7 linked regions of the Homo sapiens genome follow. The protein of the gene in region 4 purifies or fractionates together with the protein of the main gene of each other region. This does not show direct contact. Each region holds a gene or a part of one and is shown on either strand. Other genes may lie near its edges. The genes, in order: CIAPIN1, NMD3, MZT2A, UBA1, IARS1, ARHGAP1 and GRPEL1.

Evidence for each region.
Region 1: the proteins of UBA1 (region 4) and CIAPIN1 fractionate together in Homo sapiens (co-fractionation; 2 studies listed by BioGRID). This does not show direct contact.
Region 2: the proteins of UBA1 (region 4) and NMD3 fractionate together in Homo sapiens (co-fractionation; 2 studies listed by BioGRID). This does not show direct contact.
Region 3: the proteins of UBA1 (region 4) and MZT2A purify together in Homo sapiens (co-immunoprecipitation; one large-scale study listed by IntAct). This does not show direct contact.
Region 5: the proteins of UBA1 (region 4) and IARS1 fractionate together in Homo sapiens (co-fractionation; 2 studies listed by BioGRID). This does not show direct contact.
Region 6: the proteins of UBA1 (region 4) and ARHGAP1 fractionate together in Homo sapiens (co-fractionation; 2 studies listed by BioGRID). This does not show direct contact.
Region 7: the proteins of UBA1 (region 4) and GRPEL1 fractionate together in Homo sapiens (co-fractionation; one large-scale study listed by BioGRID). This does not show direct contact.

The regions. Positions count from the first base shown.
Region 1 is NC_000016.10:57,430,386-57,433,885, reverse strand, and holds part of CIAPIN1 (anamorsin), read left to right. Parts: intron 1-1,325; coding exon 1,326-1,399; intron 1,400-2,619; coding exon 2,620-2,735; intron 2,736-3,500. UniProt on the Homo sapiens protein: Component of the cytosolic iron-sulfur (Fe-S) protein assembly (CIA) machinery required for the maturation of extramitochondrial Fe-S proteins.
Region 2 is NC_000003.12:161,224,311-161,227,810, reverse strand, and holds part of NMD3 (60S ribosomal export protein NMD3), read right to left. Parts: intron 2,882-3,500; coding exon 2,747-2,881; intron 565-2,746; coding exon 468-564; intron 1-467. UniProt on the Homo sapiens protein: Acts as an adapter for the XPO1/CRM1-mediated export of the 60S ribosomal subunit.
Region 3 is NC_000002.12:131,489,598-131,493,702, forward strand, and holds the start of MZT2A (mitotic-spindle organizing protein 2A), read right to left. Parts: upstream 2,801-4,105; 5' UTR 2,780-2,800; coding exon 2,610-2,779; intron 2,428-2,609; coding exon 2,279-2,427; intron 1,640-2,278; exon of another isoform or gene 1,563-1,639; intron 1,296-1,562; coding exon of another isoform or gene 1,116-1,295; intron 1-1,115. UniProt on the Homo sapiens protein: Required for the recruitment and the assembly of the gamma-tubulin ring complex (gTuRC) at the centrosome.
Region 4 is NC_000023.11:47,196,829-47,200,328, forward strand, and holds part of UBA1 (ubiquitin-like modifier-activating enzyme 1), read left to right. Parts: exon of another isoform or gene 1-162; coding exon of another isoform or gene 163-196; exon of another isoform or gene 197-1,374; coding exon of another isoform or gene 1,375-1,527; intron 1,528-1,562; exon of another isoform or gene 1,563-1,628; intron 1,629-1,974; coding exon 1,975-2,091; intron 2,092-2,219; coding exon 2,220-2,278; intron 2,279-2,380; coding exon 2,381-2,549; intron 2,550-2,651; coding exon 2,652-2,786; intron 2,787-3,500. UniProt on the Homo sapiens protein: Catalyzes the first step in ubiquitin conjugation to mark cellular proteins for degradation through the ubiquitin-proteasome system.
Region 5 is NC_000009.12:92,241,698-92,245,197, forward strand, and holds part of IARS1 (isoleucine--tRNA ligase, cytoplasmic), read right to left. Parts: intron 3,375-3,500; coding exon 3,262-3,374; intron 1,615-3,261; coding exon 1,519-1,614; intron 634-1,518; coding exon 457-633; intron 1-456. UniProt on the Homo sapiens protein: Catalyzes the specific attachment of an amino acid to its cognate tRNA in a 2 step reaction: the amino acid (AA) is first activated by ATP to form AA-AMP and then transferred to the acceptor end of the tRNA.
Region 6 is NC_000011.10:46,694,120-46,697,619, reverse strand, and holds part of ARHGAP1 (rho GTPase-activating protein 1), read left to right. Parts: intron 1-1,463; 5' UTR 1,464-1,512; coding exon 1,513-1,645; intron 1,646-1,864; coding exon 1,865-1,960; intron 1,961-3,500. UniProt on the Homo sapiens protein: GTPase activator for the Rho, Rac and Cdc42 proteins, converting them to the putatively inactive GDP-bound state. Cdc42 seems to be the preferred substrate.
Region 7 is NC_000004.12:7,058,395-7,061,729, forward strand, and holds the end of GRPEL1 (grpE protein homolog 1, mitochondrial precursor), read right to left. Parts: intron 2,815-3,335; coding exon 2,468-2,814; 3' UTR 501-2,467; downstream 1-500. UniProt on the Homo sapiens protein: Essential component of the PAM complex, a complex required for the translocation of transit peptide-containing proteins from the inner membrane into the mitochondrial matrix in an ATP-dependent manner.

The sequences.
Region 1 (3,500 bases), on a different chromosome or scaffold from region 4:
GGCATATTAGGATCCAAAACTGAAATAATACATAGGTATTATCTAGTTCAGCTCCTTCTTCTGCACCAGAAGATACCGAGGCCTCCTAATTTTACAGGACTGAGTCACACAGTTTAATTAATGAGGTCCTTCCAGGTCCCAGAATTAACGTTTCTCCTCAGAAGACCTCACAGTGTAGTGGTAATGGTGTATGAGAGTGCCCTGTTCCTGTTCTCATGTGCTTTTTTCCCCATGCCAGGAAAATCAGCTGTTCTTACTTTGAGGATGCTAAGACACTTATAAAACTATATTTCTTCTGACTAGAAAATTGTGTACAAGCACACGCGTGCACGCACGCGCACGCACACACACACACACACACAGCTCCATCCTCATCCTTCCTATCCCTATTTTTAAATGCCTGAATTGACCCAGCTGTGAGGTATGCAGACATTAACAGATATTTACTGGTACATTCCCACTTGTACGGTTTTGACTGTCTAACCTAAATCTTCAAGAAATCCTTTGGAATCTAACCTTTCGATTCATGGTTCCAGAATGGGTAGGAATAGCTTAGAACAGTTGGCCTTGTGGAAGGTATGAGCATCCAGCTGTGACAATGATCACTAGAGGGTACTCTTACCCCAAGGGCCTGCGAGGATTTGCCCACACTGCATCCGAGCCTCAGCTCTCTGCCTCTTCCTTGCATTCTCCTGACTAGACAGAGAACCAGGAAGTGTGAGGTTTGTCTGCCACTGATGGTGTTACCTTGCCACCAGCAGCTCTAGAGCCTATTTTCTTGTATGTAGCAGGTTTACATGAGGCTAAAGCTCTGCTATTTTTGAAGGTTTTGACACATTTCTCATTTAATCCTCAAAACACCTGCAGTAACATAGGAAGTACAATTTAACTTCATGTTATAGAATGGAAACTAAGGTATCGAGGAGGAAGCAATATGGAATGGAGGTTAAAAGCATCAGACAGGCTTTGCAGCCTGTGGAACCAGCCTAAGTGTCTAAACCTGTTTCCTCAGCGGTAAAAGTAGGATGACAGATAGTTACCTCATAAGGTTGTCAGCAGAATTAAGTTAGATAATGTATATAAGTGCTTAATATGGTGCCTGGTGCAAAGCAAGAGCTTAGCAAATGGTGACTTCTGTAACTATCAGCAAGTGGTTGGCCCAAGGTCAGACCTCTCAGAGGGGTAGAGCTGGACTGTGAACCCACATCTTCTGCCTCCCAGGCCAGTGTGTTCTCTTCTACACAGCAGGAAGCATTTATGTATGTTTGTAATTAATAGTTTCTGACTGTGTTTATGGAGTTTTTTCTTTTATTGCTTGGACTCAGTGAAACCTGCTGTGGACCCTGCTGCTGCCAAGCTGTGGACCCTCTCAGCCAACGATATGGAGGACGACAGCATGGTGAGCTGGCAGCATTGTCACTTGATTGCTTTCTTTCAGGCCCCAGTTTGGGTGTGAACAGCTATAGTGACCTTTCTGGACTTGTAGGTGTGAACGTATTTAAAGCCCAGATTTGTGACTATGCCTGTCACATCTTTGATTTAGAAGGAAACTCCATGTTGGTGGCTTTTTTTTTGGAGACAGTCTCGCTCTCTTGCCCAAGCTGGAGTGCAATGGCACAATCTCGGCTTACTGCAATCTCTGCTCCCGGGTTCAAGCGATTCTCATGTTTCAGCCTCCCAAGTAGCTATGATTACAGGCATGTGCCACCACACCTGGCCAATTTTTGCGTTTTTAGCAGAGACGGGGTTTCACCATGTTGGCCAGACTGGTCGCAAAACTCCTGACCTCAAGTGATCTGCCCGCCTCGGCCTCCCAAAGTGCTGGGATTACAGGTGTGAGCCACTGCGCTTGGCCATGTTGGTGGCATTTTAAATTTTTTAGCATCTCTTTTTCCCCACATAATTTCTTGTTCTCACTTCATACGATATGTTGAAAACTCTTGTGGGCATGTGTAAACCTGAAAAGATTTTGTCAGCTTAAATAGTTTTATTGGCACCTTTGGGCAAGTTGCTGACTGTTCCATGCTTTAAAAAGCACTATTTTCTATCTTTGGCCATGTCTGTAATAAAGTTCTTCATTTCTACACCTCTACTATTGAAGTTAGAGTAGTGAGCAAAATAAGTGAGGTTCATGCTCTCATAGGGTTTACAGACTAAGTGTCTACACATTTACAAAGAATTACATAAAGGTATATATAATTATTTGATTTTTATCTGGGATTATGTAAAAGATATTTTATTCCCTTTTTCACGTGACTCTTCATAAACACTTCTCTCTTTCTCTGTTCTGCCTGTTCCCTCCCTTCTCCCCACTCCTGCCCCCAACCCCCAACATGTGTATATTCTCTACACATTGCTGGCCAGTCATACAGCTTTTTCTCATGTAAATTTGTTTCTAATTCCTTTGCATCCTAGTGCATCTTCTGTGGATGTAGTTTAACTCACCGTTGGCCTCTTGAGCATGTGGTCAGGTTGAACATGATGATCAACCAAAAGGAGGACAGGGTGGACACCTTCTTTACCCTGGACTCCAAGTTTCCTCTCGAAGCCTGCAGTCACTTTAGCTTTTCATTAGCAGAGACCACGACTGTATCACTCATTGCTTTGAACACTCTCCAGGATCTCATTGACTCAGATGAGCTGCTGGATCCAGAAGATTTGAAGAAGCCAGATCCAGCTTCCCTGCGGGCTGCTTCTTGTGGGGAAGGGAAAAAGAGGAAGGCCTGTAAGAACTGGTGAGTGCTGGGGTGACTGGAGCCTGCCATGCTGCCTCCAGTGGCTTCATGCTGAAGACATCGCGGTGCTGTACTATTTTTAGAACATACATTTTCCAGGCTGGGCAACACAGGGAGACCATCTCTGCAAATAATTAAAAAAAAAAAAAAATTAGCCAGGCATGGTGGTATGTACCTGTGGTCCCAGCTACTTGGGAGGCAAAGGCAGGAGGATCACTTGAGCCTGGGAGGTCGAGGCTGCAGTGAGCCGTAATTGTGCCATGTATCTAATTTCACTCTCCCTCAAAACCCTACCAGTAAGCCACTATTGTGCCACTGCACTCCAGCATGGGCATCAGAGCGAGACCTTGGTGTCTTCACATTTGTTTTTATAAATGGATGGGAAGGATTGTAGAAAGTTAATCAGTGATGTTCATCATCAGCGTTAATCATCAGTGTTTTTTAAATGTAAAAGCTGCCAGCATTTACAAATCAGGAAATTTCAAGTGAAAACACAGATTTTTTTCCCTTCTGTTCTTGAATTTGGAAAATATGGCAATCTGGGTCCACTTTCCCCAGCATGATAACCAGCTGAAGCTTGAGTAGTGGCTGCCCTCTGTAGACAGAGCACACACGGTACTTCCCTCATCCTCCTCCCACTTCTGTCTCCCTCAGCAGCCTCTCATATTGCTGCTGTCTGCCTGGCCTATAGGCTTCTGAGTTATGACACTGGTGTGAAGAGAAAAGGCTTAAAGCACATTTTGGCACTGTTAGGATTTGGGATTT
Region 2 (3,500 bases), on a different chromosome or scaffold from region 4:
CTTTAAAAAGTGTTTGTAGTGGGGTGCTACTGGCAACAATAGTAACATTTAATAGTTACTTTCGAGGCCAGCATGGTGGCTCACGCCTGTAATCCCAGCACTTTGGGAGGCCGAGGCAGGCAGATCACGAGGTCAGGAGTTCGAGACCAATCTGGCCAACATAGTGAAACCCTGTCTCTACTAAAAATACAAAAAATTAGCCAGATGTGGTGGTGTGCGCCTATAATCCCAGCTACTTGGGAGGCTGAGGCAGGAGAATCGTGTGAACCCGGGAGGCAGAGGTTGCAGTGAGCCGAGATCACACCATTGTACTCTAGCCTAGCCCAGGTGACAGTTCAAGACCCCACCTCAAAAAAAAAAAAAAAAAAAAAAATTCCTTTTGAAAAACCTACTCACAAGAATTTTCTGAAAATGAGACCTTTAATGAAAACATACCTATGAATACTGATTTTAGCTGTTTAACTTACCTTACTCAGAGGGGCTTTGATTTTTTTCAAGCACAAAGCAAGAAGTTCCCTGGATTCTAAAGCACACTGTATCCAAGTTCCTGGTGGTTGAAAATACCTAAAAGAGAAGATAACATACTGAAATCCAACATCTGTCAGGAAACACAGAAATTTCCATCTGAATACACAGATATAACCCAAATTATTAACCAGGCATAATAAAACCCAAGGATGATATGAAGCACTTAACTCAAACATATTTTAATGGTTCCAAAACTTTCAACTAGACTAGCAGCTTTAATTAAAAAGGTAAAATTCTGACTGAGAAAGTCAATCTGAAATAACCTACTAAAGTGATCTTATTACTTTAATCACCAAATCACCACTAAAATGTCCAAGAGTCTCTTAAAGCTATGCTCTGAAAAACAGGTGAGAATCATCTCAAAATGGCATTAAAATGGTTTATTATGTACTTCTAAAATGCCTGAGAACTGCTTATTTTTCACAAAAAAAAGGTACATTAGTACCTCACAACACTATAAATCAGCAATAGTTCAGTCTATTCATCTACATTTCAAGTCCTTTTCAAATTGTAAATTGTAAAACAACATTTAAAATCTTGGGTAAAACCAGACTAAAACAAAACTTAAATCTCTTACATATGTGCTTTAAGGTTTTTAGTCCTGCCTACCCAGGACTTAGCACTATGCCACATACATCTTATAGTAGGTGTTCAATAAATGCTTGCTAAATATAAAATACTTCCAAACATGTTATGTGAATGTCTTTTTGCCATACTTGTTACATAACAGAAAGTTTTGACTTTCACTTTTCAAGGTTCAATCAAAAACATTACACAGGTCTCCCTTTGTTTATAAGTACATATTTATTTCGTATTTTTTTTTCCTTTTTTCTTTTGAGACAGAGTCTCGCTCCATCCCCCAGGATGGAGTGCAGTGTATGATCTCGGCTCACTGCAACCTCTGCCTCTCGGGTTCAAGCGATTCTCCTGCCTCTCGAGTAGCTAGGATTACATGCGTGCCCCACCACGCCTGGCTAATTTTTGTATTTTTAGTAGAGACAGGGTTTCACCATGTTGGCCAGTCTGGTCTCGAACTCCTGACCTCAGGTGATCCACCCGCCTCAGCCTCCTCAAGTGCTTGGATTACAGGCGTGAGCCACCAAGCCTGGCCTATGAGTAAACGTTTAGAGTTAGAAAGGGCTTCACATATCACCTAATAAAACCCTTCATTCTGATGAGGAAATTGAGGCCCAGAGATGATAAACAGCTAAGAGTTTCAAACAGCTAGTTTGTGAGGAAGCCAAGACAAACTAAGTCTGTTTAGTTCTTTATCAGTACTTTTCTAACTCCACCAGGCTTTTAATAGCAAATATTTATAAAAGATTAAGCCTCACACTTGCTAAGCTTATACACTGTAAACTCCCTGAAACAGTACACAGTTTCATGTGTTTGTGTATATATATGTATATATACACACACACACATATATATTTTTACATATATACACACACACACACATATATATACATGTATGTAAATATTTTGGGGAAGAGATACAGTTTTCAAATTCTCAAAGGAGTCCATGAACCACCCCTCTAGAGATACACACTCAAAAAGTTAGCGTCTTAATCCATTTTGGAAATAACAGGCATACACTTTTACACTCATTAGGCAGTTTTGTGTTACTCAATGGCCTAATAGATGTAAGTTGTTTATGCTGACAAAGAAAATCAAGAGGAATGAAACATTAACATTCAGAAGAAGTCTTCTTCCTTCAAATCCAATCTTTATTTCAGACCATTCCAGATATAATTTATTGAGCTTCTTTTCCATCAACAATAGTTATTTTAATTACACGTGAATGTTATGAGTTTTTAAAACATATTACTAAATTACTCCAAACATAAGCTTTTTATCATACATGGCTTCTAATAACTAAAGAAAAAAAAACCTCATAATAACAATATGTCCTCAATAATCTGCTCTCACCCTTACAAACATCAACTCCTATTAACTATATACATCAAATCTATTAGATCCTTTAACAGAAGAACAGATTCAAATACATTTACACTATCTTTACCAGATTAGAAGGACACACTAGAAAAGTACACTATAAAATTGCAAATTCTAAAATCTTTGGCGACACCAACAGAAAATTTAAACCTTAATTGCATGCACTTTACTCCATATACCTTCGTGTAATCTCAGCATATCTCGGTGGTTCTCTAAATGTAAATTCCAACTTTAAAAAGAGCAAAATTGTACCGCACTGTACCTTTGACATTGTTTGCAGAACGAAATCGAGACTTGTTTCGGAATACCTTGGCTGATGTCCACTTTACTTCGCAAACAGGCCACACAAATATTGGCAGGATTTGGACTTATCGGAACACCACACTCACAGCACAAGCTTTAATAAATAAAGGATAAATTTTTCACATTAGATTTTTAAAATACACTAAATTTTTTTTTAGATGCCAAACAAACAAAAGCCTTCAAGTTAGGCCACAGCATCTTTGCCCTTTTCAAAAAAATAACAGAAACAAAGCAACCTGGGCCAGCCAGTGGCTCACACCTGTAATTCCAGCACTTTGGGAGGCTGAGGCGGGTAGATCACCTGAGATAAGGAGTTCAAGACCAGCCTCGCCAACATGGTGAAACCCCATCTCTACTAAAAATACAAAAATTAGCCAGGCATGGTGGCGCACGCCTGTAATCCCAGCTACTTGGGAGGCTGAGGCATGCATATCAAACCCAGGAGGTGGAAGTTGCAGTGAGCCAGATCACGCCACTGCACTCCAGCCTGGGTGACAGACCAAGACAATGTCTCAAAAAAAAGAAACAAAAAAAAGAAACAAAGCAATCTTCAAAGATGCAGTAGATAAAGAATAACCCTGTAATACAGGGGCAAAAACACCAAAAATGGCTATAATTCTAAAAATCCTCAATATAAGGCCGATGTCCTAAAGGTTCTAGAAGGTCAGTACTGTCCAACAGAATTTCATGCCACGACAGAAATGTTCTATTCT
Region 3 (4,105 bases), on a different chromosome or scaffold from region 4:
GAGCTCGAGATCCGCCCGCCTCAGCCTCCCAAAGTGCTGGGATTACAGGCGTGAGCCACCGCGCCGGGCCCTGCCTGGCTAGTTTTTGTATTTTTTGTAGAGATGGGGTCTTGCTATGTTGCCCAGGCTGATCTTGAACTCCTGAGCTCAAGGAATCCACCTGCCTTGACTTCCCGAAGTGCTGGGATTACAGGTGTGAGCCAGCACACTGGTCTCACTGGTGGTTTTCCTCACTGCCTCTCACTGGACTGAGTGTGATCATCTCACTTCCCTGCCACGCCCTCTGCCCTGAGAGCTAGGCCTGGCACCCAGAGCCCTGAGTGAGTGCTAAGTGAGCAGCAACATCTCCTGGAGTGACAAGAACTCTGTTCCCAGTTTCTCCCTCCTGCTGGACACTTGCCCCTCAATTGCTCATCTCAGCCTGCAGTCCATACACCCCTACTCCAGGCCTGTCCTTCAGGCCCTCTCCACCCTCTCTTGGGCCTGAGCTCTGGGTGGCAGTGAGGTGGCCGCTGTCAGGAGGCTCATGCAGGAGGCGCGACCAAAGACCCCTGGGCTCTCACAGGCCCCTGATCACACCTGGTGACACCTGGAAAGTGTCCCAACTCAGGAGTGAGGCGGGCAAGGGGGCTGAGTGCTGGAGTGTGGCCATGGGACCAGCACATGGCATCTGTGTGGCACTGCCTGGCAGACTCTGGGAAGGTGGGAGTCTCTGTTTCAGCCTCCAGACTTCCTGTCCAGGTAGGGGACAACTTCTAAGAGGCCGAGGCGTTTGTCACGCCTGGGGCTGTGCTCTCCAGCAGAGCACACTGCACCCGGCTGGCTGTCTTCCCCTGGAGAGGGGCTCTTTACACTCACCACTAGTTCGCCTCTGGGGTGTGGGGATGTTGGTCCTGTCCCCGGATGCCAGCCCGACTGTGGGGTCTAGAGACTGCCACACCATGTCTCTAATAAACCGAGTCAGAAATAGTGCCCTGTGGCTAAGCGGCAGGGCAGCGGTGGCCTGCATGATCCTGCCCTTGCAGCTCAAAGCTGCTTGGGCCTCTTGGGGCCATGCAGTTTCCATGAAAACAAGGAAGAGCACCAACCCCCAGAGATAAGCCAATAAACGCAACCTGCAAAAGGAGAGAACAGGCAGCAAGAGAGGCGGAGGGAACCCGGGGGGCCTGGAGAGAGAGGTGAGTGTGTGGCAGCTGGGCTGTGGAGCATAACCAGAGAGGCCGCAGGCTGCGGGCTGGAGGAAAACGAGGGCCTTGCAGGGGGGCTACTGTTCCTGGCAGAGAGAAAGGAGGCCTCTGGAGGTCAGAGAGAGACACAAAGAGAGCAGACAGAGCGAGGGTCAGTGAAGAGGCCAGCACGCAGGTGCCCGGGCCCTCTTGGGTCAGCGGGCGTGGGTGCCCAGGCCCTGGCACTTCCCCCATGAAGGCAGCCTGCTTTCCACGCCTTCTCATGATGCCTGTGAGGGTCTCCTCCTGCTTCCAGGCAGGGAGCCAGCTCTGGGCCTCCTTCCATTGGCCTGGGAGGTTGTGCTGCATTTCAGAGAGAGCCATCGGGAGCAGAAGCAACATGCGGAGAGGATGAGCAGGGACGGAGGCTCCACCATGACACTCTCAGTCCCAGCATCTCCTCAGCCCAGTCACCACACTGGAGAGGGAGGAGGCCCTTCAGACCCCGCAGGCCTCTGCACCCTGGGAGTTCCGCGTCTAACTCTCTTCCTGCAATCATCAGAGGCAGGAACTGGGCCCAGGTGGGGTAAAGGCAGGAAGACGTCTGCCTGCCCTGCTCCCTGGGCACTTCCCTGGATGCTGTATACCACAGGACAGAGATCGAGACTGTCTTTTGAAAAACATTTAGAGACAGGATCTCACCCTGTCACCCAGACTGGTCTCAAACTCATGGCCTCAAAGGATCCTCCCGCCGTGGGGTCCCAAAGATTATAGGCGTGAGCCACGGCGCCCAGCCCCAAACCGTCTTGATTCCCGACTTTGTAGGATGAAGGCCTGAGTGAAGAGGTGGGGAGGAGCTAAGCGGAGGAGCCCTACCCAGCCTGGACCACCCTGGGGCACGCACTCTGCGTCCACCTGACCTGGACGTGCCTCCTAAGGCTGGCAGCGAAGCCCAGGAGCAGAGCCCACGGATGGGCCCTGCAGGTGCTGGGCCTAGACCGACCGACAGACAGGCCTGGCCACTCAGGGCCACGCCGCCGCTGTGCCGCGCCTGCCCCCTCCCCGCCCGCCACCCCCGCCACTGGGGCAGGGACAGCGGGCCCAGCTCTGACCTCGGGTCTCGGGCACGCTCGACGTGGGCAGAGACACGGCCGCAGGGTCCTGGGGCTCGCTCGCTAGCCTCTGCCCGGCACACATGGACTTGAGCATCTGGAAGACGGCGAGGGGGGCCACGTTCAGCTTCAGCAGGTCCACCAGGATCCTGGCGGGGACAGACGCGGGGCCGGTGAGCCCTCTCCGCCCGGCGCGGCCACCTCCCTGAAGACCGGACAAGGACGGGGGCGGGGGCAGCGGGGGCTCCTCCCGACCAGCGGGCCGGGCGTACCCGGAGAGCAGAGGTCGGGGGTGTCTGGCGAGCATGCGGCCCCCACCCGCCCCGCTCACTTGAACACGTCGGGGTCGATACCGCCGCCCGCCGCCTGAGCCAGCTCGTACAGCTCCATCTCCTCGGTGCTCAGCACCTTCTTGCGCCGCAGCGCCAGCTTCTGCCGGGCCGCCTCCAGCCCCGGGGGCGCCGCCGACCCCGGCCCAGGCCCTACGCCCTGCGCCGCCATCCGCGAGGCCCGCCGAAAGGTGCGCCCCGCCCCGCCGCGCCCCCTAGCGGATGCGCCCACCGCCCTCTCCCTGCAGCGCCAGCGTCTGGCCTCCCGGGCTGCCCTGGCGGGAGCGGCGGGAGCGCGGGGACGGGGCCGCCTCCTCGGCGTCATTGGAGCCCAACAGTTAGTGGGCGCTCACGGTGTGCTGAGCGGCGCGCTAGGCGTCGGGAGTGGCATGGCGGACTGCAGGGGCCAGCTGCTTGGCGGTCAGGGCGTCCCTGATAGACTTGCATTGGTCGTGCTCGCTTAGGTGGCAGCACCCAGCCCAGTGCCAGGCATACATTGGGCGCTCAGTCAATACCTGTTTCAAGAAAGCGTGCAATTTTCTGGTCCGCACCGGTGCACCACTAGGGGTCGCTCTTCGGGGGGGGTGGGGGGCACTAATCAACAACCCTGCTTACGCGCACGCGCATTCCTTGCTAGGGAGAAAGTGCGTGAGCCCTACCTTGGGGCGCCAGAGGCCGCCACAACGCAGGCGCATTCAGCTAAGGACCACTCCCTCCCCCCGCACTCCTGCCTCGCCATTTCCCCTCCCTGGCCGGCCGGCCGGCCTTCTTCGCTTTGCGCACGTACCTTTTGAGGTAACGGCCCAAAGAGGTAGAAGCGCTTTTCCCGCCCGGCCGCGGGGCGTGGCTCTGCGCGCAGCTTGATGACGACGTTTTGGCGCGGTGGCGGAATGGCGGCTTCCACCTCTGAAGCGGGCGACGCTATGGGTCCCACAGGTGAGTGGCGCGGGACGCGCGCGTGAGACGGTCCGACGCCCTGGGGGCTTCCGCGAGCCCCTGCGGAGGCCATCTCCGTTCCTCCGCGAGCCCCAGGACTCGGGCGGCCCGGCGGCTCTGCCCAGGCCGGGCAGGCTGGGGAGTGGAGGGCCCCGGCTGAGTCTTCCTGCCACTCCTCTGGGCCATGCCTTTGTGCCACCTTCCCGCGCCGCTCGTACACTCTGTTCTGGTCCGGTAGGTGTTCGTTGAAGGTTACCCGTCGTTGAAGGAATTGAGGGAAGGAGAGCTTTGTGTTGAAATTGAGCCTTGGGCTCAACAGGCGGTGTGGGAGGAAGAGCCGGGTGTGGGTCCCAGCTCGACCCTTCCCCTGTGCGCTCCACATCTCCGAGCCTTGGTTTCGGAGGCTCCCGAAGCCCAATTCGCAGGAGAGTTGGAAACAAGTGGGCGCGTGCTGTTAAGGGAGGTCTTGGCATGACAGAATTTGCTTGGAATGATTAGCGTTGCCCAAGGGCTGTCGCTGTCAGAAAAACAAAACAAAACGAAACAAAAAAAACAAACGGGT
Region 4 (3,500 bases):
AATGACAAGGCAAGGAGATAACTAAGTAATAGAGGCCACTACACGTGCCCAGGGAGGAACTCACATCCTCAGGTCAGTGAGTTCTGACCACAGACCTTGGCTTCTTTAACCCTGCCAGCAGCCCCTTGAAGACAGTTTCATTTGTCCCAGCTTTTGGAGAAAATGAGGCTCAGAGGAAATGAGATCTCTACCCCAGGTCAGTCAGAGAGTCAGTAAATGGAAAATATGGTTCACCTTTGTCTCTACTAACTCACCAAGCCTCTTGCTACCCAGGTTGGCTCTTAGCATTCTAAGCAATTCACCTGGCTATCTCAGGGGCTCCAGCCAGCCTGCTGCCTCCCCTCATCTCCCATTCCTTAGCCCTGTGGACTGGGCCCTGAGCCCAGGGGCATTTGGCAAACAGTCCCCCACCAGCTGCATGCCTCTGGGCGAGTGAATGGGGTTCTCTAAGCCTTTCTTTTCCCATTTGTGATTTGGGCATAGGGTTATCTGGGTCATGGGGATTGTTAAGATTAGACAAAGCCCTTTCCTCTTTGATTGACACACAGTATGCTCTTGGTAGATAGTAGGGAGCTCTTGTCATTGTGGTTGGTGCTAGTGACAAGTGCCAAGATGGAATCTTAGGTACATTGGGATACTTAGTGTCATAAAAGTCTCAGTGTGGGAGGACTTGTGTGAACAGAAGACTCAGTGCCTAGAGGAGCACTTGGGGTGAGGGGAAGTGACGCTGGGTCCTCCCATCTCCAGCATGTGGACCCAGTCACCCCCACCACCAGATTTCACTTCCACAGCAGGCTTTATTGTTCTGTCTCTGGGACCTAGCAGGTGACCCTGGGCAAGTTACTTCTCATTTGTCCGGCAAGGACACTAAACTCTGCCTTGCTGGGTCAGGGTCATGGAGGGGATGAAACGTGATAACACGAGGAAGCAGCCTGGGCTTCAGAGTCAGCAGATCCTGGTCTGGTCCCAGCTCAGTGTGTGGGAACCTTGGTCACCGAACGTCCCTGAGTGAATTTTTTTCCATCACTTTAAAGTTGGGGGTATTATTGATAGCAGTCCAAACCCCACAGGAGTACCCTGAGGACAGAGTGAGACGAGGTTTAGAGAAGTGCTTACTATGGCATCTGGCACAAGGAGGACTCCTGATCAATCTAATACTCATTTATCATTGTGGTTAACCTGTTTAAGGGACTCCGCATGCAGATGAGGCTTGGGATGTGTTTGTTTTCTATCTTTTTGCAACCTCTTTTATTGGTCTGTGTCGGTTTTCCCCTCCCAAAGCTGGGGGCAGGGTTGGGCTTTATAAAACTTGAGCCCCTCTGGGGACTGGGTTCTCAGCAAGTTACCGCTCCTGCCATCATGCCACCCTGATGGATGTCCAAGCCTCACTTCCCTCCTGCACTCCCCGCTCCCGCCGCCATCCCTGGGATTAAGGGAGAGGAGAATGGCTGCTTGTTACTGCCTACCTACTCTGTGCCAGGTTCTATGCTCTGTGTTATTTATCATCTCGATAACCCCGTGGGGAAGGTAAGTGGTATTATCACCCCTGTTTCACAGGTGAGAAAACTGAGGCCTGTGGCGGTTAATTATTACTGTTAGTGCGTGGCAGGCTCAAGATTTGAAACCAGGTCTGTCCTGAATCCACATCCTTCCCCTGACCTCGACACAAGTACATTCTTGTCATTCCTTTCACTCCAGGATTGGAGTCTCTCCCTCATTATGCTGGGCTGGGAAGAAGCAAATGGCTTAGTGGTCAGCAGTGTGGATTTGCAAATCAGACCACCTGGGTTCAGATCTTAGGTCTGACAGCTGTGTTACCCTGGGCAAGTCCTCACCTTTCTGTGCCTGTCCCCTCTTTGCTGTAAAATGGGGGTACTAATACTTAAGTCTTCCCTTCCCCCACAGTTGCTACTAACAAACAGAAAAACGGTACCCATGTGCTCCAGGGTCACCTCTGACCTTTTTTTCCTCCAGATGTCCAGCTCGCCGCTGTCCAAGAAACGTCGCGTGTCCGGGCCTGATCCAAAGCCGGGTTCTAACTGCTCCCCTGCCCAGTCCGTGTTGTCCGAAGTGCCCTCGGTGCCAACCAACGTGAGTGTCCTCTCCGTGGAGACTGGCAGACGAGGTGGTGGGTGGGAAAGTCTTTTGTATCACTGTCTGTCTATCCATGCTCCACTCCTGTGTGTCTCCCTAAACTTGTTCTTTTCCTCTATTCCTAGGGAATGGCCAAGAACGGCAGTGAAGCAGACATAGACGAGGGCCTTTACTCCCGGCAGCTGTAAGTGGGGCCAAGGCCGGGCTGAGGGGTGTGGAATGGGACATTGAGAGGATAAGGTTGGGTGGGGCAGGCCCTGACCTAGAGTACCCCCTAACCTGGCAGGTATGTGTTGGGCCATGAGGCAATGAAGCGGCTCCAGACATCCAGTGTCCTGGTATCAGGCCTGCGGGGCCTGGGCGTGGAGATCGCTAAGAACATCATCCTTGGTGGGGTCAAGGCTGTTACCCTACATGACCAGGGCACTGCCCAGTGGGCTGATCTTTCCTCCCAGGTACCTCTTCCTAGCACCCTTCCCCCTTTCCCCCTTCCCGAGGCACCACTGTTCCCGGTGCCACAGCCATTTCATCTTTTTCCCTACTGCACACCCTTACAGTTCTACCTGCGGGAGGAGGACATCGGTAAAAACCGGGCCGAGGTATCACAGCCCCGCCTCGCTGAGCTCAACAGCTATGTGCCTGTCACTGCCTACACTGGACCCCTCGTTGAGGACTTCCTTAGTGGTTTCCAGGTATCTTGGGGGTACTACCCAGCCTTCTGCCCAGTTTTCTCAGAGCCCATCTCTGGTTTATTCAGTAGTGTTCAATATTGATTTAATGGGTCGGCCTGAATGTCAGGTTTTGTGCTGGGGGACTAGAGTATGCAGGCAGCAGTTAGCCCCTGGCCCTGCCTTTTCTTTTCTTCTTTTTTTTTTTTTGAGACGGAGTCTTGCTCTGTCGCCCAAGCTAGAGTGCAGTGGCGCGATCTCGGCTCACTGCAAGCTACACCTCCTGGGTTCACGCCATTCTCCTGCCTCAGCCTCCCGAGTAGCTGGGACTACAGGCGCCTGCCACCACGCCCGGCTAATTTTTTTTTGTATTTTTAGTAGAGACGGGGTTTCACTGTGTTAGCCAGGGTGGTCTCGATCTCCTGACCTTGTGATCCGCCCGCCTCCGCCTCCCAAAGTGCTGGGATTACAGGTGTGAGCCACCGCACCCGGCCTGGCCCCGCCTTTTCAAGTGGGGAAGATGTGTACAGACAGTACAGCATAGTGGTTGTGGGCACAGACTGTAGAGCCATACTGCCTTGCTGCAGGCCTCCAGCCTTGGTAGTGTGACTTCAAGCAGGTTGTTTCATCTCCTGTACCTTTGTTTTCCTGTTTGTAGTCAGTGCGTGGTAGCAGCACTGACTTCATGGACTTTTTGTGAGGGTTAAACACGTGGAATTGCAGCTGGCATATAAGGAC
Region 5 (3,500 bases), on a different chromosome or scaffold from region 4:
TTCATAAGTATATCTAAAATTCCTAGATGTAACAACAGAAATGCTATTGTAATCTTTCTTTTTTTGTACTGTACTTTTATGGAGAACCCACTACCAGAAGAGTTAAATGTTTTTCAAGCCAATTGCTATTTACTTTTAATGATAATTACCAGAATCCACACACTGCCTTTTCTAGTTTTAGAAAAAACAGGCCATTTTATTTCCGGGCAAAGCTCATGTACCCTCCTGGCTACCTTCCTCAAGAGAACTGTTGTGAAAACAGTTCCATCTTCCCTCCCTGCTCCATCTTTTCTGAGCTTCCACTCTCTGACTCTACCCACTACTGTCCAGAGCAATACTTCAAGACAGAGTGCTGTGCCGATCTCTACTGTGGGACAGAATATCAACACGTGAGTACACAAAGTCAAACCTAATCTGAAACCCTTTAGTAGTAGTTCAGTGGAACTCAGGACTCACCTGTGTTTTTTCTTGAATAAGGACTTTATCCGATGGAGAAACTGGATATGGTTTCAAGGGAGCCTTTATGGTGGTAAATATGAACTCTGTGTGGCTTTCAATAACACTATTCAGATATGTTCCTTCAGACTTTGCTTTATAGTACACTGTGATTTCATCAGTTGGAACCAGATTGCACTGAAAACACACACAGAAAAATTTAAAAGGGAAGTACATTCTATTAATCAGAACTGAAGGAAGGTACTGTTGAACAAGGGCTACAGATCCCATGCTGAATCATCACAGAAGGGCAGTCACCCTTCCCTCCCTGCTGGGTGATCCGTAAGACTAACTGCACTCAGTACATGATTAACTTTGTGTCTTTTTCACCACTCTTTGGGGGATAGGGCATGTTTCTTTTCCTAGAACAATCAGTACCTCATGAATGTTGAAACCAAGAAATTACTTAGAACCCACTTACAAAGCTCTGAACTGATTCAGAGGTCACAAGCACCCACTCATCTGCTGGAACAGCCTCCTCAGACCTTGAACCGTCTGGGAAGAAAGATGTATGTTAGCTGTCACTGCCCTCTACAGGGCAAGAAATTCCTGATTCTCTCACTAGCAGGGGCTTTGCAGCCCCTCTGCGCTCCAGGATGAGCTCCCTGCATATTCCTCAGCTCTCTAATAAGGAAAAACTACCCAACTCTGTCCAAATCCGGGAATCTCCCCTAAGCTAGAAGCCTGTCTATGCTGACTGCACCTCTGCCCTTCTGCAAAGACACTATCAGCTCTGATTACCTTCTGCTCCAGTCACAGGGGATATTCTGTAGAAGCCCAACGGAGCTAAAAAAAAGGATGGGAAAAGGCACAGGCTGGCTGAAAGCTACGACTTGGGAGTGAACACGTGGGGAGAGGAAGAGGAGTGACTTTTCTGCAGAATACATTCCAAATGGACTATGGATTAGTGATTGTTATGCATTGATCACTATGGTTTATATTACCTGCCTCTCCTATCTTCTCCAAACAACCAAAACAAACAAAAAGCCAAAACAGTAGCTTATTCTTAACTGACAAACTAACCTTTTTGCGAAGTTTCTGTATGCGATTGATGACTTCCCGAGCCATTCCTTCATCTACCATTGACTGGTCAGGAGTGACATCTAAGAGGACCAAAGCCTGTGGGAATGAACAGTGCACACCATGACAATCAAATAAGGAGAAACACTTCTTCCCAACTCAGCAAAATGTTATTTAAATCTGGAGAGTCTATAATGCAGCACTATTTTTTCACACAAATGAGCAAAAGCAATAAAATTAATCTAGTTTATCATTCAGGTACTTCTTCATAATCAGCTAGTCCTCTGTCTCTGGAGAAAGGTGTGCAGGTTTTTGTTTCTTGTTTTTTTGTAGGGTGCTGCTCACAGGAGATGCCCTGGGACCACCTCTTATCAGAGTCCCTCACATGACTCTGCTTTTTGGCCATCTAAGAAGTAATATCAACTCTTCTAATAAGTAAGATCAATAATCATGAAGCCCTTGGAGCAGCACAGCTTTTCAGGCCACAACAAGTGGATCAACGGCCTCAGCGCAGTCAACTCCAAGTGACTTTCCTATACCATGACCCCTGTGATCTTCAGGTTTGTCAGAACGACTCAAGACAAATTCTACAATGGACCACAAAACTTTCTGTGACTTAAACTGCCATATTTTTGCTAAGGTTAATGTTTCTATCTCATCTATTCTGAAGGTTGCTGATTATGATGTAGCAATAATGACACTATCGCTTCTGTTACACAGCATGTTGCAGAGTAAAATATACTCTACAAAAGACTTGTACATTAGGCATCATCTCATTTACCTTTGAGTAAACAGAGAAGTTAAGAAATGACTCACTTCATAAAGGCATCAGAGGTAGTGAAATGCATGATAAACTCAAAATTCCAGTCAGTGCAGGGCCACTACAACATGTAAGCCATGTCAAGAAACTCAGAAGCATCACATGACACTTTTGTAAGGTGGACAACTTTTCAGGCCCCTAACATCTGCTGTAATGAGGAAGAACTGCCCACTGTCAGTGTTTAGAAACCTCCTCCCTGCCTTCTTTCCCAGCTACGATACCTCCGACTCCTTGCCACTGTCTTCCCACGTAGAGTTCTGTACACATCTAACTTAAGCGCCTGGGTAAAGGACTGAGGAGGTCGACCTTCCTTTCATGGAGGTGCTGCTCTACCTTCCCCTGCACATGGTATGCTAAGCACAGAGGGACCCCTGCAATATCCCCAAACCCACATGCGAGATCTTACAACTATGCTGACTGGGGATGTCTGGTCAGGACTGCAAAGAGATAGTCTCTTCTCCAATATGGCAAAAAATATTGATCCTGGAATCTAAAACAGTTTGTATATTCTCTTGAAAAGAGTGTTCCCTGACCACTTTTCACCCTACACCTATTTTTGGATAGGAGCCCTCTGTGTACTTATTTCTACCAGATAACTTATCAGGTAGAATACTAAGAACTGGCTTAATTTCAGGTGTCCTTGACTGACTCATTCCTTGAAGGGTTCATTTTTGTGCAACCCCACACTTGGGACAATGACTGACATGTAGAAATCACAAAATGCTTACTTATGTATTCACTAAACAAATGCATATGTTAAGGGCATAATAATATATTAGTTTAATAAAGCCAATCTAAACCAAGTAACTGGTTTATTTTACCCTGAGACAAGCTGTCAACATTATCAGGAAAGGCACAGGCAAATACTTTCTCCTCTTATGCTCTCATCTCTTGGTAAAGAAATGTTCTAGGAAACAGAAAAATACCTGAGCATCTGAGTGTGCTTCAAATTGCGCAGTCCCACCTGTGGCCTGATCAAAGGTGTACATGAGGCGGATGTCTTCATCGTGCAATTCATGGCCTTCCACAACAATGGTCCCTATGGAGAAGCAGCTACACTGTTAATCAGCTTCCCCTCCTCTTCAAGCTGCCCCACTACCCGTGTATTATGCCCCTTCTTGATTAAAATTTCACAATAACAAAGCCACAGAGGCTTCAAGAGATC
Region 6 (3,500 bases), on a different chromosome or scaffold from region 4:
GCCCTGGTGATAGGGTGGCTGTTGCTAGGCACAGGGAGAGGGCTCACCATCCAGGGCCCTTGGCTGTGATGTGATGTGTGCAGGAGGTTGTCAAGTGGCCTCAGAGCCCAGAGTCTGTGGCTCTGGGATGGCAGCTCTCCCCCTCTTCTTCCTGCCCACCCCCAGGGCTTGTCTGCTCTCCTTATCTGCCCTGCTGATTCTCTGACCATATATGTCAGTTTTGGGGCTCCAGGAATGCAGCTGGACATGGAGCAGCCTCTTCCCTGGGGTTAGACTGAATAGGTTGAACTAAAAACTGCCCTCCCTCATGTGGGGAGCTTGTGGCAGGAGGGGGAGTTGCTGCCCATTAGGGCTGAGGGCAGAGGTGCCTACCCCCAGGCTGCATGCGGCTGCAGCCTTCTGGCCAGATTCCAGACCTACAGAAACCCAGCTTGGTGGTCGAGTCTGCCTTGTGCCTGCCGGAGCTGCTGTTCTGCTGGTGACCTCCTCATCTCAGCACCCCAGACATCACGAGCATCCCCCTTTCCCATCTGCGCCCTCCAATCCTTAGGGCCGTCAACCTTTCCACCTTGAAACTGGTGTCAGGAGCACCCTGCAGAGTAAGAGTGGGCTTGGACGCCCCTAGGAGCCTGCAGACTGTCTGCAATGACTGGCAGGCGATTCCACATCCCCTGCTGCTAGTTCCTGTCCTGGAGCAAGCCCAGCTGGGCCCCTCAGCCATAGCTTTTATTTTTTTATTTTTATTTTTTTGGGATGGAGTCTTGCCCTGTCGCCTAGGCTGGAAGTGCAATGGCACAATCTCGGCTCACTGCAACCTCCGCCTCCTGGGTTCAAGTGATTCTCCTGCCTCAGCTTCCTGAGTAGCTGGGATTACAGATGCCTGCCACCACGCCCAGCTAGTTTTTGTATTTTTAGTAGAGATGGGGTTTCACCATGCTGGCCAGGCTAGTCTTGAACTCCTGACCTCAGGTGATCCGCCTGCCTCGGCCTCCCAAAGTGCTGGGATTACAGGCGTGAGCCACGGTGCCCAGCATGTTCCTTAGATTCTTACAACATTTCTACCCCTGTAACTGCTAGAGCCTGGGAGGCTTCTGTGTCCAGGTCTCCTGAGGCGAGGGGCGTGGACCTCTGCCCTCTACAGCTGGGACTGCATCACTGAGCCAGCTGGGTGGCGGGCGGCACAGGACCTGGCACAGCTCTTCCCTCCCCAGCTGCAGGGCCTGGAGGGAGGCGCTGAGCTGTGCCATCCTCTGCCCCAGCTGCCTTTTCTGGCAACACGCCTGAGCCACGGAGCCAGGAGAACCCAGAGCTACGTGGAGCTCTTGGCGGGGATGAGGAGTGTTGAGGAATAGGGACAGGGAGCCTGGGAGAGGGAATGGTGGGGGCAGGAGGGCACGCGGTGGAGGTCGCAGAAGGTGAAAAGAGCAGGTCACTGACCTGCCACCTGTCTTCCTCTCTCCCAGGTTTCTCTTAAGGTTCTGCAGGGCAAGGCTGTCTGGGACAGGCTTGGCCATGGATCCGCTCTCAGAGCTGCAGGATGATCTGACCTTGGATGACACCAGCGAGGCTCTGAACCAGCTGAAGCTGGCCTCCATCGATGAGAAGAACTGGCCCTCGGATGAAATGCCTGACTTCCCCAAGTCAGGTGGGCTTGTGTCTGGTCTCAGGCAGCTACAGGCGCTTTAGAGGGGGAAGCACTCCTTCTGCTGAAGGGAGACGCCAGGAGGGCAGGATGGGGCAGACCAGTCCCAGGTTTGGGCTGGGAGCATGGGCCTTACTGGGGGAAGGGCCAGACAGCATGCCTGTGGGGCAGAGCATGGTGCCAGCCCCCTGGCTTGTCCCCTGACCCTGCTGTGTTCCTCAGATGACTCCAAAAGCAGCTCCCCGGAACTTGTCACACACCTGAAGTGGGATGACCCATACTATGACATCGCCCGGCACCAGATCGTGGAGGTGGCAGGTAAGCACACCCAACACTATTTTCCTAACCCTCAGAGCTCCTGGCCTCAGGAAGTCAGCCCTTCACACCACAGGGGAAGGGCCTCTCTGCAGTCTGACCGCTGGCCCTGGTGCTCCTGGCATGTGGGGAGCCATGTGGCCTAGTGGCTTTGAAGTCAGAAAGCCCTGGGTTTGATCTCCAGCTCTGCTCTTTGAACTCTAATTTCTTCCTTGTGGGTTACAATAATGAATGCATGTCAGGGCCTAGCCCAGAGCCAGAACACAGTTGGCCTTGAATAAGTAGCCTTCCCTTCCCCTCGTTCTATTGCCCTCCTACCCCTCCACCCTAATGTTGGCTTTTCCACCCTATCAGTTACTGGGGAGGATGAGGAGTGCCAGTCCTTCCTGGGAAATTGTAGCCCTAGGGAAGTCTGGAATGGGCAGAGCCTCTTTCCAAAAATGGGGAGGGGGCACATGGCTCCCTGGAGCACCAGATTCCTGGCAGATATGCTGCCCTGCTGAGAGTGGGTACAGAGCCCCGCTTAGGTCTCTGTCTCAGGGAGCTCCCTCCCTCCTGTTCATAAGGGGGGACCCAGAAGAAACCAGGAGCCAGGGAGTCAGGCTGATGAGGTGGTTGCTGCCCTTAGGGCCCCACTTTAGAAGGAGCAGCTGGAATCTAGGATCCTTTATCTTTTCCCTAACATTTGTCCATCCTTGCTGGTGAGGCCAGGCATTCATAAGCAGGGTGGCAGCATGGCCCTGCTCTGAGGCATTGGCGTGGGCAAGGAGAACCTGGCAGACACCGGCCCTGGAAGAAGCCTGTCTGGCTATGGGGGTGCTGGGCTTGGAAAGGGAGGGGGCAGTTGAGAGGATTGCCCCGAACGTCAAAGGTGTTTCCATGGCGTTTGTATTCTTGGCGCCTGCCCTGATCTGGGTTGAGGGCCTTGGCTCTGGCCTCATTCACCCCCTGCAGAAGCAAAGCTGAGAGTTTTTTCCCCAGTCTGGTCCTGAATTGGGCACGGGAAAGTCACCTTGAAGGTTCTGAACTTGACTGGAGTCTGGGGGGTACCTGATGTGAAGGAGTCTCTGTCCTGACATCATCCTGGCCTGTTTGGTCAAGGCAGAGCTGGGGGAGCCTGCCCCTCCCCACCTCCGTGGGTGACACCTCCTTCCCCACAACCCCCGCACAGAGCTGCAATTTGTTTCTATTTCCCTAGACTACGATGAGCCTGAGGGGGCCCAGCCAGGTAGGTGTCCGTCCTGGCTCGCTGTGCTTGTCCTCTTTGGACTGCAACCTCTGGGGCTGTGGATCAGGAAGGGCTCTCGGTGGAGGCCAGATGGGGCTAGCTTAATTGCAGTCTCACCCTGGGGAGCTGGGAGTTGGTGGTGCCTGGGAGTCGGAAATAGCAGAAGATTTATGGGAGGTAGGATGGGGGTGGGGGAGGCTGTGTGGGGACACACCCAGGCCCCAAAGGGAAAGGAGCTTGCGGGAGGGTCTGGCCTTGGGCAATGGCCTCTGAGTGGTGGCTCAGGGACCTTCTGGGTGATGGTGTCCCCATGGA
Region 7 (3,335 bases), on a different chromosome or scaffold from region 4:
TGCTGGGATTACAGGCGTGAGCCACTGCACCCGACCTAAAGTTGCTTTCTCTTAAGCAGAGACCCTTTCGTGCCAGGTGCTCTCCTCCCTCAAAGCAGCAGTACAGCCAGAGAAAGCCAAATGGGTCTGAGTCTTTCAGGAAGCCAGGCCGACTTTTCAGATGCCTCTGAGACTTCCAGTTCTGGTTTTCACTGTTCACACGTGACACTTCACTCATGCTGCAGTTATGCTAAATCCAGTAACTACTAGAAGGTAGCTAAACAAATCTTTAATTCCTACTGTAAATATGCACATAATTAAAAGACATTTTCCTATTACAGGTTGAGTATCCCCAAATCTGAAAGGCTGCAAAATCTGAAACTTTCTGAGTGCCTACATGGTGCTCAAAGGAGATGCTCATTTAGAGCATTTTGGATTTTGGGATTGGGGATACTTAACCAGCAAATACAATGCAAATAGTCAAGCAGAGAATCTCTTTTCAGTCAATGAGGGGCCACATATTAGAACACAGTTTGCACTGTACCTTTACTATGTTATGTTCAGATACACAGATACCATTGTGTTAACAGTTGCCTACAGTATCAGTACAGTAACGTGCCCTCCAGTCTAGAGCAACAGGCTACATACACCATATAGCCTAGGTGTGGAGGAGGCTCCACCACCTGTTTTTTAGGTCCATGTAGGTACACATGGTGTTCACAGGAAAAACTGCCTGACAGCGCATTTCTCAGAACACATCCCTGTGGTTAAGCCATGCTTGACTATATTCCAAAATCCGAAAACCCCCCAAGTTTGAAACAATTCTGGTTCTAAGCATTTCAGATGATAACCAACTTATAGTGACTATGGATGACTGAAGCTTACTGTAAAAAAATATTTTGCTACTTAAGCTATATTGCCTCTAGGTTACGAGTTAAGTGCTTTTTAGCAACTGCAGCTGTAGTTGAGACGGTAGGAGACTGCAAACATTCACAGAAATGAGTTGATAAATTACTTTTCTTAGCCTCCATTTAACTCGGGAGCTCCAGGGGTGATGATGCACTCACAACCCCACAGCGTGAAAACAGGCAGCGCTGGAGCTCCCAGTCATGTTTTCTTCAATACACGATGCTGCCTTTAGTTGTTTCTGACCAAATTAACTTAAGGCATCTTAAAGGTGGAACATGTTTGGGAATGGTATCCCAAGATGAAGTATTATGGGACCATTACTTGCGTCTTTTAAAATTAGAAGTGAAATAAACTGCCCCATCTTTCCTGTGCAGCAAATGGCTTTCACAAGTATCTTCCATTCTAGAAGCAAAGGCAGCGAAAGGTTCTTTTCTCTTTTTTGTAACAGACGCCAATCATTCAGCCTTTTTCTAAGCCCTGGATGACCGTGTAAATGAGGAACAGCCCTTTGGCAAGATGATTTTGCAAATCCTGTGCCCTTGCTGTGGCTCCTGGGTGTTTCGTATTCTTACCGGACGGGCTGCAGCTGCACTGGGGGAGTGTGGCTCTCCCTTTCTGTGTAGAAGCCTGTATATGTGTGTACGTGAATGTGCACGCACGCACGTGTCAAGCTGACAGCTTCTGGGCTGGAGTAGAGAATGGGAAGGCTAAGCCATGCTTGCCTCAGCGGCAAGGATCTCCATGAGAGGACACAAAATTGTTTTCAGAAAGTAGGAAAATAAACATTAGGGCTTTAATCCTCTTAAATAAAAATTTTAAATTAAACATTAACATTTAAAGTACACCAAGCGTGCAGTCCTATTTTGAGAAAGTCCATTTTGCCAGGGAATACAACTTGAGGTCATTAGTAACTAGTTGAATATGATTTAAATATGTCTGCATTTAGATGAACAGAACAGGGTAAAAGGAACTTTGCCAAGCCAAGCTCAATTCCTGGCCAAATAATGGGGGAGAACTGTCAGTGCCCACACCCATTTCTCAGTGGTCAGTTTCAGCCGCTGTTGACTGAAGACAAACGAACTCACTATGTTCTTCACAAAGATCATTTTTTTTAAGTAAGAAAAATGTTTCAACTCTCTTGCCTTTCCTTCAGCGAATGAAATGTGACGGGCTAAATACGCCAGTCACTCATGCGCCGCAGGGACACATGGTGCAGACTGGCGTGCCCAGGTAGCCAAACAGAATTCCCCAAGACCTTTTATTTGTTTAAAATACTTTGGTGTCAGCAGAGTCTGAGCAGACACGTTACTCATGATGCTCGGGAGACCAGGCAGGGCCCTGCTGAGCTCTTCTGAAAGTATGTGGAACTATTCAACGCGTGGCACTAAAAGGGAACAGACTCCCGAATTAGAGTTCATTAATGCAGTTGGGCAACCGGCTTTTCTGTTTAGCCACTGGTTACTTAAGGTTTCCAATAAGGTTTGGGAAAAGGTCACACGTACTCATAGATGAGAAACAATGAACCAGCCTTGAGAGTTACATCAAGTGAGTTTAAAAACACCCACCCCATCAACAGCAGCTAAGCTTCCTTCACCACCCCCACCAGGGCGGGTCTCAGAGTGCGCCCATGCAGCTTGTACCCCACTTTGCTAACTAGGGCCACTGTGCCTGGCTCCTTCCCCTCAACCGGTGTGTGGAACAAGGCCTCATGTTCATAAGGGTCGAACTTGGCTCCGACAGGGTTCAACTTGAGCAAGCCATGCTTTGTGAACACCTTCTGGATCTGGACTTCAGTCATGACCAGCCCCTCATAGAGGTTCTTCAGGTGAGGGTTATCGTCTTTAATTTCTTCTTTTGGAACACACTGTGTTGCCTTCTCCAGAACGTCTGCCACCTCCAACAAGTCCTTGCAGAAGGCTTGAATGCCTGGATGAAGTTAAAGAAGATCATTTGCACTCCATACCAACCGCACAGGGCAATTCCAAACTGAGCACTGCTGACCTGATGTGGAGGCTATTTAGTAACTTGTCAAATCAATCGCCTCAGAATTCCAATGGCTCAATAACTTTAAAAAACAACACAAAACTCTCAAAAGCTACTTGTGGGATGAGACCCAGAATTTACTAAATTTAGAATTCACTAAAATGTGAAGAAAGGAGTGCAGTAGAGGGGAAAATACCCTTGAGACATCCAAGCCCAGATGTCAAGCAAGCAGTAAGATTTAGGGGACTGGAACTCGGAAGATCCGAGTTTGAAGCTGAGACTTGTGTGTGGATGCCACTAAGCCCGTAAGAGTATGTAAGTCACCCAGGGAGCACAGCAAGGGGAGAGAAGAGGTCTGGTACTGAGTCCCAAGAGCCCAGGCATTTACAGGTCGGAAAGGGTAAGAACCAACAAAGCACATTACCACAAAGAGAGGCGGAATACCAAGAAACAGGCCACAGTAT